2 separate regions of the Homo sapiens genome follow, and region 2 is linked to region 1. The links come from fine-mapping of genetic effects on gene expression. A gene starts in region 1. The other region holds a variant in brackets. All regions are shown on one strand. Distances are from middle to middle.

What was found. PIP is the estimated chance that this variant, and not a neighbour inherited with it, causes the effect. A credible set is the group of variants that fine-mapping cannot tell apart.
Region 2: its variant is the best candidate, but not a certain one, in a credible set for the expression of DMAC2 in putamen (GTEx, PIP 0.52).

The regions. Positions count from the first base shown.
Region 1 is chr19:41,438,500-41,441,403 of GRCh38, reverse strand. It overlaps DMAC2 (distal membrane arm assembly component 2), which reads left to right and starts at 1,492. Exons shown (of 6, transcript NM_018035.3): 1 at 1,492-1,522. The coding sequence starts at 1,505. RefSeq lists an enhancer at 1,588-1,757.
Region 2 is chr19:41,407,143-41,410,046 of GRCh38, reverse strand. The region is part of intron 1 of BCKDHA (branched chain keto acid dehydrogenase E1 subunit alpha); the gene reads right to left. Among named protein-coding and RNA genes, the nearest start is that of BCKDHA, 11 kb to the right of the region's middle. RefSeq lists enhancers at 207-256, 1,566-2,521, 2,522-2,904. The variant A/G (reference allele first, on the strand shown) is at 1,476.

The DNA.
Region 1 (2,904 bases):
AGAATCTAATGCCTGATGATCTCAGGTGGAACAGTTTCATCCCAAAACCATCCCCACCCCACCCCCGACCCCCAGTCTATGGAAAAATTGTCCTCCACGAAACCAGTCCCTGGTAACAAAACGGTTAGGGACCGCTGCTCTAAGGTACATTCTCCACCTGGCAGAAATAATCTTTACAAAATGTAAATCCGATTTTGACACTCCCTTCTTCCCACTGTGAATAGAATAAAACCCTACCAGGCCTGCACCGTCAGCCCCTGCCCACCTCTCAACCCAGTCTCCTATCTCTGTCTGCAAGCTGGTTCCCACCTCAAGGCCTCTCTGCTCTAGAGGCTACCTCTCCCTGCAGCGCTTTTCCCCTAGATCTTTGAATGGCTCTTTCCTTATCATTCACTTCTACTTCAATGTCACCTCTTCAGAGAGGCCTTTGCTGATGGCCCTACACCCAGTCACTTTTTTTTATCTGCTTCTCATCAAAATTGCCTTGCTGATTCCTTTGTTTCTTATTCATCCTCTCCCACATCCATCCTCTCCCAGCCCAGAATGTTGACTTCCTGAGAGAGGGACTGGGTCTGTCCTGCTCACCATGGTAACCTCGGCATCTAGAACAGTGCCTGCCATCACGTGGTAGGTGCTCAGTAAATATTCTTGGAACTAATGAATGAATAATTCTATCCACAAGACTTCACAATGGCTCTTCATGCTGCGATCTAGCTTTCAACTCCAAACTGGTCTTGAGATCTCACCTCAGTCTCTAACCTTGACATCTAACCTCTTCACCCACTCTCTTACCTGACCCTAATTTTTAAAAATGACGTGGTCAGCTTTTCAGCCCCCTCATTCCCTGTTTTTAGGAGGTAGTGAGTGGAAGCTGGAAGAATAAGAAAGCTTGGGGAGACTGCAATTGCAGTCAGGAAAGAAAGGTACTCTGCCGGGAAGAACACCCCATCTTCTCCTAGGGAAAGATTGTGGAGTCCTGGGGTTTGTTTTGTTTTTCAATTTTTTGTTTTAAGAGACAGCGTCTCGCTCTGTCACCCAGGCTGGAGTGCAGTGGCGCAATCACAGCTCACTGCAACTTCGACCTCCCCGGCTCAAGTGATCCCCCCGCCTCAGCCTCGTGAGTAGCTGGGACCACAGGCGTGCACCACCACGCCCGGCTAACATTTTATTTTTTGTGGATATAAGGTTGCCCTATTTCTTTGTGGAGATAAAGGCTCCCCTATGTTGCCCAGGCTGGTCTCGAACTCCTGGCTTCAAGCGATGCTTTCGCCTCGGCCTCCACAAAGTGCTGGGTTCACAGGTGCGTGAGCCCGACCTGTGTCTCGTTTTGAAGCTCAGGGAGAGGGCGCTGTGAGCAATCCCTAAACCCTTTAAGAGTAAAAAGTGCGTGCACCTTTAAGAGGACGGTTAGAAAACGCGGGGCGTGGCCACAGGAGAATAAGTTCGCGCTGAACCAGGAGCGTGGGATAAGACCGGCCCCTTCCGGTTACGAAACCTTAGCAAGATGGCGGCTCCCTGGGCGGTAAGTGACCGGAGTTCCTAGAGCCCCAAATTTGAAGTCCGCTCTACAGCCTCCGCATTCAGGGCCTCTGTTGGCGGCCACGAGAGCAGAAAGCCGTGAGGCAGCAGGCTAAGCCTGGCAAGCCCCGTACTGGGAGTGCAAACCTGTGGCTAGTGGGGGCCAGGAAGGATCTGTGAGGGTCGCAGGCGGAGGAGACGCTTTAGCGAGCGAGAGGAGGCAGGGACTTGGCTGAGAGTATCCAATGGGGATGAGGGAGTGGCTGCCGAAGAGCGACGCGACTAACCAATCAGAGGGAGGGATGACACAAGGAGCTAATGGACAGGCAAGGGTGGGGCCTGTAGGATAAGAGAGCTTGGAAGGGATTGTTCGAGGATGTGGGATTTGGTCTTAGAAGACCGAAGGATGAATGTAAGGAAAGTTAGTGGGAGATTGACGAATTTTTACAGAAAACTCAAAAGCATGATGGGTGGGGGAACCAAGAGGTCAATTTGGAGGTTCTAAGGGCATGATCTGGGTGAAATTAAGAGGAGAATTTGAGATATTCTTTCAGAGGATTTAAAATCAAGGAATGAATTTAGGGAAAATTAAAGAGGTTGGCAGCTTTAAACTTTTGAGGAAAATAAGGGTTTGGGTAAAATTATCGAGATAATTTGAAAAAAAAAAAGAATTTGGTTAAAGCAAAGAGAAATTGGGGTAGATTAAGAGGAGACCTTGAAAGCAAAATTGAAGAGTTTGGGGGCTTCTTCCCATTGGCCACACCCCTCGACTTTCTTACTCTCCTCTTCAAAGCTCATGCTTTTTATACCCTTCTCGGTTCAGGGGTGTCCAATCTTTTGGCTTCCCTGGGCCACGCTGTTCGAAGAAGAAGAATTGTCTTGGGCCACACATAAAATACACTAACCATAACTGATGAGCCAAAAAAAAAAAAAAAAAAATCACAAAAATATCCTCCTAATGTTTTAAGAAAGTTTGCATGTTTGTGTTGGGCTGCATGCAGGCGGCGGGTTGGACAAGCTTGGTTGGTTTTAGGGATTGCTCAGAGCACCCTCTCCTTGAGGTTTGGAGATAAGTTTTTAAGATTATATTCTGGGGAAAGAAAGAAGTCATTTGGGAAGACCCCAGCAGAAGAATTGGGTAATTAAGGGGCAAATCTGTGGAAAATTAAGAGGTCAAATAATGCAGGTTTTGAGTGATAAGGGTTTGGGGGAAAGTTAGAGGAAGAATTTAGGAAAATCAACAATATATGGCTAGTCGAGAAAATTTAGGGTTCACTAAGGGGAGGAGGAACTTGGAAAAAACATGGGGAAATTTTTGGAATCTCAAAGACAGTTTTGAAGTTTTGAAGGAAGAACTTAGGGTGAGTTGGGAAGCAGAGGGATTGA
Region 2 (2,904 bases), 31 kb after region 1:
CGAATCTCACTTGAGGTCAGGAGTTCGAGATCAATGTGGCCAACATGGCGAAACCCTGTACCCACTAAAAATAGAAAAATTAGCCGGATGTGGTGGCACATGCCTGTAGTCCCAGCTACTCAGGAGGCTGAGGCAAGAGAATCACTTGAACCCGGGAGGTGGGGGTTGCAGTGAGCCGAGATTGCGCCATAGCACTCTAGCCTGGTGACAGTGAGACTCCATCTCAAAAAAAAAAAAAAAAAAAAAAATCCCTTAGAGGGTGATATGGCAAAGTAACTTCCCCTCTCCACGTGTCCCCTTCCTTGTCTATAAAAATGGAGAACCCCTCATGGAAATGAGAGGCTTAAACAAGATCACATGAATAAAATGTTCAGCAAAGCATCTGTAAGCCACCTAACAAATGCTCAAAACAATCTTAGCAATTCTCATTTCTCCCTCTCATCTCTGCTTGCTTTACAAGAAGGTCTCTTTCCCTATCGCCTGGCAAACTGCTACATACGCTTCAGTGTCCACTCTACTCTGGTCCCAGCTCCCTCTGCGAGCCCAGACTGACTCATTCAACAAATATTTGAGCACCTGACATGTTCCAAGCCCTGTGCTGGGTTCTGGGGACCTAAGACAGGCAAGATATCTGTCCTTGCTGCCTAGCAGGGAGGGCAGACACTAAACAAGTAACAATGATGGTGGTTCATATTATCCTATAGCAGAAGAAAGCGAGGGTAAGGCTTCCCTGGGGAAGTGATGTTAGAGCTGAAACCTGAGGGATAACCAGGAGGCAGGGAAAGCACATTCTCGGCAAGGTGTATAGAACATGCAAAAGACAAAAAGTGGCCAGGCACAGTGGCTTATGCCTGTAATCCCAACACTTCGGGAGGCTGAGACCAGCCTGGCCAACATGGTGAAACCCCATGTCTACCAAAAATACAAAAATTAGCTGGGCGTGGTTGCGCACACCTGTAATCCCAGCTACTCAAGAGGCTGAGGCAGGAGAATCACTTGAATCCGGGAAGCGGAGGTTGCAATAAGCCCAGATTGCACCAACACATCCCAGCCTGGGCAACAGAGACCCTGCCACACACACAAAAAAAGACAAAAGGCAAGGAATAGTGTGTCCTTCATGGAAGACAGAAGGAGCTCAGGGCCTGGCAAGGTGGCTCATATCTGTAATCCCAACACTTTGGGCTCAAGGATTACTTGAGCCCAGGTGAGCCCAGGAGTTCAAGACCAGCCTGAGATCACATCTCTACAAAAAATTTTAAAAATTACTCAAGCATGGTAACATACACCTATAGTCCCAGCTACTTGGAAGGCTGAGGTGGGAGAATCGCTTGACCCCAGGAGGTGGAGGCTGCAGTAAGCCATGATCACACCACTGCACTCCAGCCTGGGCAACAGAGCAACATGCTGTCTCAAACAAAAAAAAAAGCTCAGAGGGGCTGGAGGAGTCCTGCAAGGACATCACACCTCCTCAGGTC[A/G]GATGAGGAATGGCTGAGAAAGCCCAGGAGACCTGTGAGAAGCCTATAAATGCTCAAAGGGATATGAACCCACTGGGACTCTTAGCTCTGGAGCTAGGCAGCCTAGAACCAGCCGAGGCGTTGCAATAGCTCCCCCTTATGAAGCACCTGCTGTAAGCCAGCTGAGCCTGGCAGGCACAAGCCTACTAACTCCTCGGGGAATTTGTGAGGTTGATTATCTGCCATTGCCCTTGAGTAGATGAGGAAACCGAGGCCTGGGGAGGTAAAATAACCTGCACCAAACCACAAATTTAAAAAAAAAAAAAAAAAGGTGGGGATGCTGGGCAGTGGCTTACGCCTGTAATCCTAGCACTTTGGAAGGCCAAGGCAGGAGGATCACATGAGCTCAGGAGTTTGAGACCAGCCTGGGCAACAGTGAGAAACCCTGTCTCCACAAAAAAATACAAACATTAGAAAGGCATGGTGACACATGCCTGTGGTCCCAGCTACTTGGGAGGCTGAGGCAGGAGGACTGCTTGAACCTGGAAGGATGAGGCTGTAGTGAGCTGAGACTGTGCCACTGCACTCCAGCCTGGGGGACAAAGTGAGACCCTGTCTCAAAAAAAAAAAAAAAAAAAAAAATTACATCAGAACTGGGCTTCCAACGCTGAGATTCAGGCTCCTAGACATCCATGCTCCTCACCCCAACTGCCCCTGCAGCCTGATTTTCAAACATCTGCAACTTTTCTTCCCACTACTCCCGGGATTCCTCCGAGGTCAGTAATGGTGGCTTCACTTCCCACAGATGTTAAAGAATGGCAGGGTTTGCCACAAGCTGGATCTCACACATGCGTGCTCAAATGTGTCCCTCCGTCTTCCTTTAACTGCAGTGAACAAGCTGTCCACAGTTCTAGCGGGGTAGCATGTTCAGTGTGTGTATTTATTTGCATTTGTAGTCGTGAGGAAATTACACTCCCAATGGCAGGGCAGATTCAGGCCTGGCAATGTCACTGCAGGCCTCCCCTTGTGAGGAGGAAACAGCCGGCCTCTTGCAGCACAGTGCTTCCCCCTTCTGAGTACCCAGCATAGCCAGACACTGACCTAGAAGATTGCTTTGTTTCGTGTCTGTCTCCCACACACACCACAATCCCAGGAAGGCAGAGACAGCGTCCAGGTTGCCTTCACAGCAGGCACTCAAGAGGGAATTCCTGAGTGAATGCATGAATGGGCTGTTAAGTTCCCTGGCTCTGGAGTTCAACTGCCCTGGGTTCTAATTTCTTAGCTCATTGTGTGGCTCTCTGCAAAAACACTTCACCTCTCTGAATTTCCTTATCTGTAAGAAGGCTGCAGAACACCACGTGAAAAGTTGCTAAGTTAACTCACACCAGGGGTTCAGCACCGATCTGGGACGTATTACATACTCAAAACTTGGTAAGAGAGAGAAAAACAA